Regions from separate parts of the Homo sapiens genome. Here region 2 is linked to region 1. A link means that fine-mapping ties the variant in region 1 to the expression of a gene that starts in the linked region. Tissue or cell type: neutrophils. Region 1 holds a variant in brackets; the other region holds the start of a gene. All regions are shown on one strand. Distances are between the middles of the regions.

Region 1 (6,762 bases):
GAGGAAGGAGTGAGGGGTAGGCCTCTGGAGAGGGTGCGCCCACAGGGGATGGGCCCAGAAGGAGGGGGACCAGGGAGTCCCAGCTCACATGTTTCACAACAGGGTTTTGGATGGGCGTCTCAGGGCTGCTGTCAGGAGGTGGCCCCAAGCTCAGCATGGTGCTCACGCATCCCTCTACTTGGGCATGCAAGAAGTTGTTGAAGACATAATGGAAGAAGAGGTCCTATGGGAGGACACAGGATTGGTACCAGAGAGGCCCCGCCCCAGCCGAGCCCCCAACCCCTGAGCCCCCAGCCGAGCCCCCACCCCAGCCCCCGAACCCTCAGCCCAGTCCAGTCCCCGCCCCAGCCCCTGAACCCCCAGCCCGGTCCAGTCCCCGCACCAGCATGGTGTTGGGCACGTCCAGTGCCAGGAGCTCGTGCGTCAGGGCTGCATCATTGGCGCTCAGGGCACTGGCCAGGAGCTTGACCACGTGCAGCCGCGTGTTGCCCAGAGGCGGAGCCAGCATGCCCCATGTCATCTGTAGCGGCTCCAGCTGCAGACACAGGGAGGCCTGATTCCCAAGGGCTGCCCTTCCTGCTTCCCCCGCCTCCCCGAGGACCAGAACCCACACCCCTGACCTTGGGAGGCTCCAGCAGGAGCTGGTGGAAGCAGCTGAGCCGCGGGCGTAGGGCGTGCAAGGCGCCCACACTGGACACAGTGCTTTCCAGGGCCCCCTGGGCCAGGAGCTCCAGCTGCCCATCCACACTGCTGAAGAAGCTGTTCACGGTCACGGACTCGGACCTGCAGCAGGGCAGGGTCGAAGGCGGAGTGAGCCTAGATGGCCTGTGCGCCCACACAGGAGTAGGCACAAGGACCACGTCTGCAGGGTCTGGAGGAAAACGAGGAGCCACATGCCCCCAGCGCCGCTCTCTTCTGAGGCCCTTCAGACAACACCTGGCTGGGGTGGGGAGCCCGCCAGGCGGCAGCATTGGCAGTCCACTGTGAGAGCACGGGTGAGGGGTGGAGGCGGGAAGGCAAACCCAACAGGCTAGCGGCCTGTGTGGTAAGGCAGGGGCACGGGGGCCTGGGGTCCCTCCCAACACAAGCTGCAGCAGTGGCCTCAGCCTCAGTGCCCTCACTTGTCAAAGCAGACAAGAAGATTCCTCCCTCGGCCCCGTACTGTCCACTGTGCAGGGAGCACAGGCAGCCACAGAGCAAGGTGCCACGGGCGGGGATTTCTCTTGGTGGACACCGAGACCCGCCTCTGAGGGGCCGGAGAGCCCCTGGGGATGGGCAGCATGCATGGTCTGTGGCCCGTATCCCTCACCTCGGCCTCCTGGGCTCCAGCAGGGTCAGCAGCACCTGGATCCCACTGACGATGACAGACTGGCTCTGCTCCCCCTCGAACATGTTGCTTAAGAGCTGCTCAATCGTCTCCTGCCTGCGGGGGCAGGGGCAGGGGTCAGGGTGAGGGGCCAGGGGCCCAGGGCTTCCCCAAGTCAGCTCCCCCCAGCCTTAGCCTTGCCCGCACACCCACTTCTCCAGGGTGGCCAGCAGTTGGTCAGGCTCTGGGCTGTCCTGGACTTGGATCATCTGCTCCCGGCTCAGGCGGATGATGTCACACAGGGACTGGGATGCGTTGGAATGTTGCTGGAACGGGGAGAGACAGGTGAGGATCCTGGTCGGGCCACCGGGCCCTCTGCAGCCTGGTGCTGGGAGCCCCTCCCATGAGCTGACCATCCAGGGAAAAATGGTCACCCAGACACAGGGACACGTGTTACGAAGGAGGAGGGCACAGAGGCACCAACTGCTGGAGGGAAGATGGTGGAGAGAACAGGAAGCCCGGAAGGCTCCCCAGGACAGGAGGCATCCACACAAGGCCCTCATGACCGCATACAGGGCTGGCAGCACCGCCCACAATGACCCAGAAGGCTCTGACTGATGAGTGAATATGCCCAAGCTGGTCTATCCACACAGGAGAGTGCTAATCAGCCAGGAAAAGGAGTGAAACTGATACATGCAACCACATGAATGAGCCACAAAAACATCATGCTAGAGAAAGAAACCACACACAGATCACGTAGTACATGATTCCAATTATATGAAATGTCCAAAGACAAATCCACAGAGACAGAATAGTCTGGTGGTTGCCGGGGGCTAAGAAGAGAAAGGGGAAGATCAGGAGGAGCTGCTAATGAACACAGGGCATCTTTTTTATTTTTTCTGGAGAAAGGGTCTCGGCTGGGTGTGATGGCACATGCCTATAATCCCAGCAGTCTGAAAGGCCGAGGTGGGGCCGGGCGCGGTGGCTCACGCCTGTAATCCCAGCACTTTGGGAGGCCGAGGCAGGTGGATCACGAGGTCAGGAGTTTGAGACCAGCCTGGCCAACATGGTGAAACCCC[A/G]TCTCTACTAAAAATAAAAAAATTAGCCAGGCGCAGTGGTAGGCGCCTGTAGTCCCAGCTACTCGGGAGGCTGAGGCAGGAGAATCGCTTGAACCTGGGAGGTGGAGGCTGCAGTGAGCCGAGATCGTGCCACTGCACTCTAGACAGAGCGAGACTCCATCTCAAAAAAAAAAAAAAAAAAAGAAAGGCCAAGGTGGCAGGATCACTTGAGCCCAGGAGTTTGAGACCAGTCGGGGCAACATAGCAAAACTCTATCTCTACAAATACAAAAAAATTAGCCAAGAATGGTGGTGTGCATCTCTAGTTCCAGCTGTTCATGAGGCAGAGGCAGGAGGATTGCTTGAGCCCAGGGGGGTCAAGGCTACAGTGAGGCAAGATCACGCCACTGCACTCCAGCCTGGGCAACAGAGCAAGACACTGTCTCAAAAAAAAGACACGGCCTCTACATCACCCCAGGCTTGAGCGCAGTGGTGCCATCACAGCTCACTGCAGCCCTGAACTCCTGGGCCCAAGAGATCCTCCCGTCTCAGACTCTTGAGTAGCTAGGATTACAGGTGTGCACCACCAATGCCAGCTAATTTTTCAATTTTTTGTAGCGACAACGTCTTGCTATGTTGCCCAGGCTAGTCTCAAACTCCTGGGCTCAAGCAATCCTCCAGCCTCACCTGCCAAAGCGCTGGGATTACAGGCAGGACTTGTTTTTTGGAGTGATAAAAAATAATCTAAATTCAACAAGATGATAAACGCTTTGAATACCCTAAAAGCGCTGAATCGTAAGCTTCGGTGGGTGAGTGGTATGCTGTGCAATTTACATCTCAGTAAAGCTGCTACAAAAGAGAGAAAAGAGAGAAGCATAAGCAGAGCTGAGTCTACCCAACGGGCAGCTGCCAGGGCTTGGCAGTGTGGCCCTGGGCCATGCCTCAGGGTCCTCACAGGGACAGGCCCCAGCCTGGGTGAGCCCAGAGCCATCTCTGCTCTGTAAGCCTGTGCGCCTCTGAGGCAGAAGTTGGCATTGGGAAGGACATGTTGCTCCCAGTGGCCTCGGATATCTGAGGCTCTTGACAAACACCCACTCTACACTAGGCCCTGTGCTGGGCACCAGGACAGAGATGGAGACCCAAGCTGGAGAAACACATGGACATGGGGTCCCCCAGAGCTAAAGGGGAGGATGTGAGGGCGCTTGAAAGCAAGGCTGCTGGACGGACACTTAGAAGGACAGCAAGGGGTTCAATCAGGCAGGAGACAGGGAAAAAGCTGCCAGGCCCAGCAATAGCACAGGCCAGGGTGGGCAGGGACGGATGTGGGGCCAGCGCTTGGACAGGCGATGAGGAGGGCCCCTCCCTGCAAGGCATTATGTGCCAAGTTCCTGGGTCATGAAAAAAACCTTTCCAGCACTTTCGGAGGCCACAGTGGGAGAATCACTTGAGTCAAGTTTCTTTCCTTTTCTCAAAGGGCATGGATACACCTGGTTCTCAATGCTCTCTTTTCTCACCAATTTCTTTTCTTTCTTTTTTTTTTTTTGAGACAGGGTCTCACTGTGTCACCCAGGCTGGAGTGCAGTGGTGTGATCATGACTCACTATAGCCTTGACCTCCCGGCTCAAGCAATCCTCCTACCTGAGCTTCCCAAGTAGCTGGGACTACAGGTGTGCAACACCACACTCAGCTAAGTTTTTACGTAGAGACGGGGTGTTACTATGTTGCCCAAGCTGGTCTCAAACTCATGGGCTCAAGTAATCCTCCCACCTCGCCCTCCCAAAGTGCTGGAATTACAGGCGTGAGCCACTGCGTCCAGCCCCAATTCCTCTTTTAAAAGTGGGGAAGTGGGCATGGGGAAGGAACTCTAAGGGGAATCCGCAGGGGCATCGGCAGCACTCACATTCTCATCCTTCGACGGGTGGATCTGCTCAATCAGCCGCTGGACGATCTTCTCCTCGTTGAGCCACTGAGGGTGAGAAGGCGAGGGATGCATCGCTGTCCACCACGCCCAGCCCCCCACCCCCAGAGGAGCCGGCCCTGCTCACATTGACAACATCCTGCCTCAGCTGAGGCCGCTCCACACAGGTGAGCAGGCGCAGCAGGAGGTCCATGATGGCCGAGGTGCCAATGTGCTGCAGCAGCAGGTCCACGAAGTCATCCTTCTTCCGAAGAAAGGACACGAGCTGGGGGCACACGGGCTGCGTCATGCACAGGGCCTGGCCCAGCCACCACCCCTCAACCCACGGTGGCGCCAGGGTGGGGGCCAGGGCACCTGGTCTGTCTTGCGGTTGATGAGGATGCCCATGACCTTGCTGAAGAAGCTGGCCAGCAGTGGGTTGAGGCTGCCGGTGCTCTGCAGGAAGCCGTAGAGCCGGTTCAGAAGGGACTCATCAGCACCCAGGGCATCATTGATCTGGGGCACATCTGAGGTCAGAATCTCGCAGGCCACACTGGGGTACCTGGGAGGCAAGCACAGGCGGGTGGGGGCTCGGGTCGGAGGCCGGGGGCAGGGGGCGGCAAGGCTCCACCCTCTTCTCTGCACCGGGCACTGGGTTTCTGGGAACTGCAGAGACCCCTGTCCAGGAAGGGGAAAGGGCAGAGGACAGGGTGACGCAGAAACAAGGGCCCACACCAGGCCTCCTCCACCCTGCTAACACCCAACCATCCCATCCTAGGCTCCTTACCACCCCCAAGACAAGCTGGTCCTGAAGCTCCTGCGCTTCCCAATCCCCCAGCAGCTAACACTCATCCCTTTTGCCTCTCAGCGGCTTCACTTGCAACCCCGTATGCTGCCCCAGCTCCGGCTGACTCCTGGAACCTTGCTCAACTTCCAACCTCACCTCCTGCCTCCCTCCTCCAAACTTTCACACGGTGCCTGACGGCTCCAAGACAAGAGCTGCCCCACCAGCGTGCCACTCAAGGCCCTGAGGGGCCACAGTCTGCTCCAGGACTGTGGGGAGGTACCCCTTGGGAGGCTGAGGCAGGCATATCACTTGAGGTCAGAAGTTCAAGACCAGCCTGGGCAACATGGCGAAACCCTGTCTCTACCAAAAATACAAAAATTAGCTGGGCGTGCTGGCTTATAGTCCCAGCTACTTAGGAGGGTGAGGCAGGAGAATCACTTGAACTTGGGAGGAGGAGGTTGCAGTGAGCCGATCATGCCTCTGCACTCCAACCTGGTGATAAAGTGAGTCTCAAAAAAAAAAAAAAAAGTGTCTTTTCAGCATCGCTTGGATTAAAAAATAAGTAAAGTGTCTTCAATAGCAGACAAGTGTTTCACAAACATACAAAAAAAGTTTAATAAAAAGTAAATAAAATAAAAGGCGGCGAATAAAGAGAAAAACCAGCCGGGCATGTCGTCACATGCCTGTGGTCCCAGCTACTCGGGCAACTGAGGCGGGAGGATCACCTGGGCCCGTGAATTTGTGGCTGCCGTGACCCGTGACTGTGCCACTGCCCTCCAGAGCACAGGCTTGGTCTGCACCCGGTGAGCTGTGAGGCCTTGTGCAGGAGCCTGGCTGCTCCCAGCCTCGTCTTCCTCATCCCCAAACTGGAGTTTACTGACACTGACGCATTTCAGGGTAGCTGTGAGGCTTGCGTAGTGAAGGTATGTGTGATGCTGATAGGGACGGGCTGGCCAGGAGCTGGGGAACTCACTTGTAGCGCAGCCGCTCCTCACCGCTATCTGGCGGCTCCTGGGTGACCCAGGCCACCATTGCTTGCAGGTGGGGTGGCTGCAGCAGGAAGTCCAGCAGCTTGCGGTTGACGACCTTGCACTCCTGCAGCACGTCTTCCTCGTCCAGCAGCTCGGGCAGGCTCAGGTCCTCCCGCTCCAGCAGCGTGTCCAGGTGCGAGCTTGTGTGCAGGTCAAACTTCCAAAACATGGCGCCCTGCAGGCATAGACACAACCAGCGCCGCGTCAGACGCCCCAGGGAGTCCCCACTGGACGAGGCACTGACCACAGGGGCTGAGTGCCCACCTTGGGCACAGCCTCTCCCCAAGTCCCAGCCCTCTGCCTCATGCTGAGCCCGGCCCCGCCCCGGGACTGCCCGCAGGCTCACTGCCTCCATCACTCAGGCTTAAGGCTCCCAGTGAGCACCAGGCTCCTGCAGTTGCCCTCGAGCCTGCCCCTCTTCCCCCATCTCCAGCCTCCCGGCCGCCTCGCCTGAGGTCCAGGGGGTCATTTCACACCTGAGGCCTCAGGCCTGGTGAAGTCCCCAGGTGTGGACCATGTGCAGGGCCTGCGAGAAGAGGCTGGACCCTGTGCACTGAGGGGCCTCGGGCCCTGTCTCCCCATGAGGGTCTGGGTCCACTATCCCTACTTTTGGGAGAGACACTGCAGAGGCAGGGCCTTAACCTCTGGCTTCAAATTTGCTTCAACCTGTATTTGCTCAACAAA
Region 2 (5,730 bases), 81 kb after region 1:
CAGTCCTAGCTCACACATTCTCCTGCTTGGGGAGTTTCTCCCTGCCCTCCCAGCCCCTCCGTGCACCTCCCAGCCTCCAGGGCCTCCCCAGGATGCTCACCTCTCCAAGCTTCCTGGGGCTCTCAGTCCTGGAGCTGGGGCTGGGTGAGCTCAGGGAAGAAGGGCTGGCATTCGGGGTGGGGCTCAGGCAGACATCCTGCAGAGGCAAAGTCCAGGCTGCAGGACTGCCTGGGTCCTTTGGTCTGACTGCCACTTCCTAACGGCTCTCTGTCCCCAAACCACCGTGTCCTGTCTCCTTAGAACCTCACAGGCAGCACCGTAGCTTTGGGGGACCCTAATTTCCTTCCTCCAGCTTTGTGTATTCAACATCCAAACTCTCAGCCCTATCCTCCCCTGGACTCAGATCGGAGCCTCCACCCTTGGGGACCCAGGAGTCCAAGCTCCAACTCCTTCCTCCTTCCCCAAAATGCAGGAGTCCAGGCCCCCAGAACTCTTCCCTTAGACACAGAAGTCCCAGCCACCTCCTCTCTCACTATGCCACCTCGTGTCTTTTAATGGACATAAAATCCACATAACATTAGCCATTTTAAAGTGTACGACTCGGCCAGGCACGGCGGCTCACGCCTGTAATCCCAGCAGTTTGGGAGACCAAGGTGGGCAGATCATCTGGAGTCAGGTGTTTGAGACTAGCCTGGCCAACATGGTGAAACCCCATCTCTACTAAAAATGCAAAAATTAGCTGGGTGTGGTGGCGGGAGCCTGTAATCCCAGCTACTCCGGAGGCTGAGGCAGGAGAATCCCTTGAACCTGGGAAGCAGAAGTTGCAGTCAGTCCAGATCATGCCATTGGACTCCAGCCTGGGTGACAAGAGCAAAACTCTGTCTCAGAAAAAAGAAAAAAAAAATGTGCGACTCAGCGACATTAGTGCACTCCCAATGTTATGCAACCATCGCCTCTTTCTTTTTTTTTTTTTGAGACAGAGTCTCCCTCTGTCACCCAGATTGGAGTGCAGTGGCGCAATTTCGGCTCACTGCAACCTCTGCTTCCCGGGTTCAAGTGATTCTCCTGCCTCAGCCTCCTGAGGAGCTGGGATTACAGGCCGGTGCCACCATGCCTGGCTAATTTTTGTATTTTTAGTAGAGATGGGGTTTCACCATGTTGGCCAGGCTGGTCTCGAACTCCCAACCTCAGGTGATCCACCCGCCTCAGGCTCCCAAAGTGCTGGGATTACAGGCGTGAGACACTGCGCCCAACCTTTTTTTTTTTTTTTTTTTTCTGAAACAGAGTCTCCCTCTGTTGCCCAGGCTGGAGTGCAGTGGCACAATCTTGGCTCACTGGGACCTCCACCTCCTGGGTTCAAGTGATTCTCATGCCTCAGCCTCCCAAGTAGCTGGGATTACAGGTGCCCGCCACTATGCCTGGCTAATTTTTGCATTTTTTGATAAAGACAGAGTTTCACCATGTTGGCCAGGCTGGCCTCAAAATGCTGACCTCAAGTGATCCCCCTGCCTCAGCCTCCCAAAGTGCTGGGATTACAGGCGGAAGCCATCGCGCCCAACCCGTCTGGTGTATTTTATGCTCAGTGTAATGTTTTTGAGATTCATCCATGTTGTGGCATGTATTAGTGTTTCATTCCTTTATTTTTTATTTTTATTTTTTAAACAGCCAGGGTCGGCTGGGCAAGGTGGCTGACGCCTGTAGTCCCAGCACTTTGGGAGGCTGAGGCAGGTGGATCACCTGAGGTCAGGAGATCGAGACCAGCCTGGCCAACATGGTGAAAACCTGTCTCTACTAAAAATACAAAAAAAAATTAGCTGGGTGGCCGGGCATGGTGGCTCACGCCTGCAATCCCAGCACTTTGGGAGGCCGAGGTGGGCAGATCATGAGATCAGGAGTTTGAGACCAGCCTGGCCAACATAGTGAAACCCCGTCTCTACTAAAAATACAAAAATTAGCCGGGTGTGGTGGCAGGCACCTGTAATCCCAGCTACTCGGGAGGCTGAGGCAGGAGAATCGCTTGAACCCAGGAGGCGGAGGTTGCAGTGAGCCGAGATCGCACCACTGCATTCCAGCCTGGGCGACAGAGTGAGACTCCGTCTCCAAAAATAAATAAAATAAAATAAATAAATAAAATAAAAAATAAATCCTGTCCCAGTGGGGCTGATAGAGGGCAAAGCTCTCCAAGTCCTCCTCACCCCTTCTGCTGCCAAATGCCTCTCCTCTGGGTCTCGTCTTCCTCCTTTCGCTTCTTTTTCCGGAGGTCTCCGTTTGCCCAGACATGAATCTGAGCCACCCCCTGCCCTCAGGGGAATCCCTGTCTGTGGGCAACACAGATGATCAGCAGGTGACAGCTCCTCTAAAGGAAGTCACACAAAGCTATGAGGGAGCCCAGGGGAGGGAGGGGTCCATGCTACCTGCTCCTCCGTCGGCCCTCAACACTGATCTCCTGCCCTGCCCTGTCCTGTGTTTGCCACCTGGCTGATTCCCACTTCTCTTCCAAAAACATAATAATAATAAAGACGAGAAAGCCCAGGTGATCCTAAGGAAGACTTGTCCCCGCTCTGAGCCTCCATACCCAACTCGGTGTCCTGGCACAAAGATGAGTTTGGCTCACTGGTGTCCCCACGGTGCTTATGTGACCTGCTTGGACCCTCCCTGGGAGGACAGGGGACAGGGCTCCAGCCTGCCGAGCTACTTTCAAGTTGGGAATTAGGCCCCACTCACCGGCCACGGGTAGGTTGGGTGTCTGGAGCCTGAAGGATCCTTCCAGAAGCTAGGGCTGCTGGCCTGGCTCAGCCGAGGGGAAGAGGCTGTGCTTTTCCTCTGAGAAAGATGACGTTGCACTTTCATATTGAGGAAACCGCTTGTGGTTGGTGGTGGGGACTGGTTTTTATTTTTATTTTTATTTTTTTATTTTATTTTTTATTTTTGAGACGGAGTTTCGCTCTTGTTGCCCAGGCTGGAGTGCAATGGCGCGATCTCAGCTGACCGCAACCTCTGCCCCCGGGTTCAAGCGATTCTCCTGCTCAGCCTCCCAAGTAGCTGGAATTACAGTCATGCACCACCACACCCGGCTAATTTTGTATTTTTTTAGTAGAAACAGGGTTTCTCCATGTCGGTCAGGCTAGTCCCAAACTCCTGACATCCGGTGTTCCACCCGCCTCGGCCTCCCAAGTGCTAGGATTACAGGCGTGAGCCACCGCGGCCGGCCTATTTTTATTTTTATATCCCTAGATGTCTATGTCCCCTGCCTGGAAGTTTCCCCAGAGAGGGGATGTAGACGTCTAGGAACACAGAGGTCTCAGAACCTTCCCCAGGGAGGGGATGTACACCTCTAGAGATAGATGGGTCTCGGACCTCTGTTTTCTTGTCTGCAAAACAGGGATCATGATGGTCTGCCCTCGTGCAATTGTGAGGGTTTATTGGGGTTATCCACATAAGACCCTAAAAGAATGCCTGTCTGACCGGGCCCGGTGGCTCACGCCTGTAATCCCAGCATTTTGGGAGGCTGAGGCGGGTGGATCACCTGAGGTCATGAGTTCGAGACCAGCCTGGCCAATATGGCGAAACCCCGTTTCTACTAAAAATACAAAAATTAGCTGGGCATGGTGGCGGGCGCCTGTAATCCCAGCTACTCAAGAGGCTGAGGCCGGAGAATCGCTTGAATCCAGGAAGTGGAGGTTGCAGTGAGTCGAGATTGTGCCACTACACTCCAGCCCGGACGACAAGAGCGAAACTCCCTCTCAAAAAAACAAAAAAGAAAGAAAGAAAAGAAAAGCAAGAGATTGACTGGGGATGAGGTTGCTGAAGGATAAAGGAGGAGAAAGGCCAGGCGCGGTGGCTTAAGCCTGTAATCCCAGCACTTTGGGAGGCCAAGGCAGGCGGATCACGAGGTCAGGAGTTCAAGACCAGCCTGGCCAATATGGTGAAACCCCGTCTCTACTAAAAATACAAAAAAAAAAAGAAAAAAAGAAAAAGGAGGAGAAAGACCAGGAGTGGCTGGGAGAGACTTCAGACTGCAACGTGAGTGGGTCTGGGTCTGACACTGGAGAAAGGAGATGGGGAGAGTGGAAGAATCACAGACCATGTGCAGTTCTGAGAACCCCGGTCAGGTCAGCTGGGAAATGTGGTGCAAAGATCACCCATACGCAAGTCCATGGAGACCGAAAGCAAGTCAGTGGTTGCAAGGGGTGGGAAGAGGGGAGGATGGGAAATGATTGCTTATTTGGAGTTTCCTTATGGGGGTTATGAAACTGTTTTGGAACTAGATAGAGACGAAGGTTGCACAACATTGGGACTGTGCTAGACGACACCGAATTATACTTTAAAATGCTTAGAGTGGGCCGGGCGCCGTGGCTCACGCCTGTCATCCCAGCACTTTGGGAGGCCGAGGCGGGCGGATCACGAGGTCAGGAGATCAACACCATCCTGGCTAACATGGTGAAACCCCATCTCTACTAAAAATACAAAAAAATTAGCCGGGCGTGGTGGCGGGCGCCTGTGGTCCCAGCTACCCGGGAGGTTGAGGCAGGAGAACGGCGGGAACCCGGGAGGCGGCAGTTGCAGTGAGCCGAGATCGCGTCGCCGCACTCCAGCCTGGGCGACAGAGCGAGACTCCGTCCCAAAAAATAAATAAATAAATACATAAATAAATAAATAAATAAATAATTTAAAAATTAAATTTAACTTTTTTTTTTTTTTTTTGAGACGGAGTCTCGCTCTTTGGCCCAGGCTGGAGTGCAGTGACGCGATCTCGGCTCACTGCAAGCTCCGCCTCCCGGGTTCAAAGGATTCTCCTGCCTCAGCCTCCCGAGTAGCTGGGACTAAAGGCGCCCGCCACCACGCCCGGCTAATTTTTTTTTTTTTTTTTTTGTATGTTTAGTAGAGATGAGGTTCCACTGTGTTATTCAGGATGGTCTTGATCTCCTGACCTCGTGATCCGCCCGCCTCGGCCTCCCAAAGTGTTGGGATTACAGGTGAGAGCCACCGCGCCTGGCCAAAAAGTTAAATTTAATAAATAAATAAATAAACACTTTAGCACATTGACTTTAGAGGTGTCCACATTGGGCAGAAACGGCCAGGCTCTGCTCCCCACCCCATGCTTAGTCATCGGTCAAGGCTGCATAAAAAGAATGTAATAGCAATCCAAATCAAACACTGCTGAAGGTGCTACTGCTGGAGGCTGGAGACCAGCTGAAGTCCTCCCTGCTAATCAAGTTCTTTCAGGAAGGGTGAGCCACCTGGCTACCGTACTTGCCCAATGTCACTCAGCTACCGAGTGGAGCAGCTTGGGTCTGTCTGGCTGTAAAGTTTGGTTCCTTCCTATGTGCCATGCAATGCCCTTGAATATCCCTCCTTATCTTCACCCATCCAACCTTCTCCTGAAACATCCATTTATCTGTGCATATGTTCATGCCTTTGTGCATTCCTCCAGCTAGTTATTTCTCCACTCATCCACCCACCTGCCTATCCGGCCAGCCATTTGCTCATATGTTCTTTTTTTTTTTTTTTTTTGAGATGGACTTTTGCTCTTGTTGCCCAGGCTGGAGTGCAGTGGCGCGATCTCGGCTCACTACAACCTCTGCCTCCCGGGTTCTAGCAATTCTCCTGCCTCAGCCTCCCGAGTAGCTGGGGTTACAGGCACCTGCCACCATTCTACCTAGAAGTAGAATTACTGGGTTGTATAGTAACATTTTTAGGAACTGCTAAACTACTTTCCGCCATGTGTAC

Which allele goes with the higher level. Positions count from the first base shown, and alleles are read on the strand shown. Sizes are in standard deviations (SD) of each study's normalised expression.
In carriers of allele A in region 1, the expression in neutrophils of the gene that starts at base 2,794 in region 2 tends to be lower than with G alone (large effect, 1.9 SD a copy in BLUEPRINT).

What was found. PIP is the estimated chance that this variant, and not a neighbour inherited with it, causes the effect. A credible set is the group of variants that fine-mapping cannot tell apart.
Region 2: it holds the start of TMEM150B, and the variant in region 1 is the best candidate, but not a certain one, in a credible set for the expression of TMEM150B in neutrophils (BLUEPRINT, PIP 0.66).

The regions. Positions count from the first base shown.
Region 1 is chr19:55,240,857-55,247,618 of GRCh38, forward strand. PPP6R1 (protein phosphatase 6 regulatory subunit 1) reads right to left here. Exons shown (of 24, transcript NM_014931.4): 2 at 6,021-6,253; 3 at 4,636-4,822; 4 at 4,409-4,546; 5 at 4,264-4,329; 6 at 1,520-1,632; 7 at 1,310-1,423; 8 at 621-783; 9 at 383-535; 10 at 89-223. The coding sequence starts at 6,247. MIR6803 (microRNA 6803) reads right to left here and starts at 4,394; the gene lies at 4,330-4,394. The variant A/G (reference allele first, on the strand shown) is at 2,386.
Region 2 is chr19:55,322,548-55,328,277 of GRCh38, forward strand. TMEM150B (transmembrane protein 150B) reads right to left here and starts at 2,794. Exons shown (of 8, transcript NM_001282011.2): 1 at 2,725-2,794; 2 at 101-196.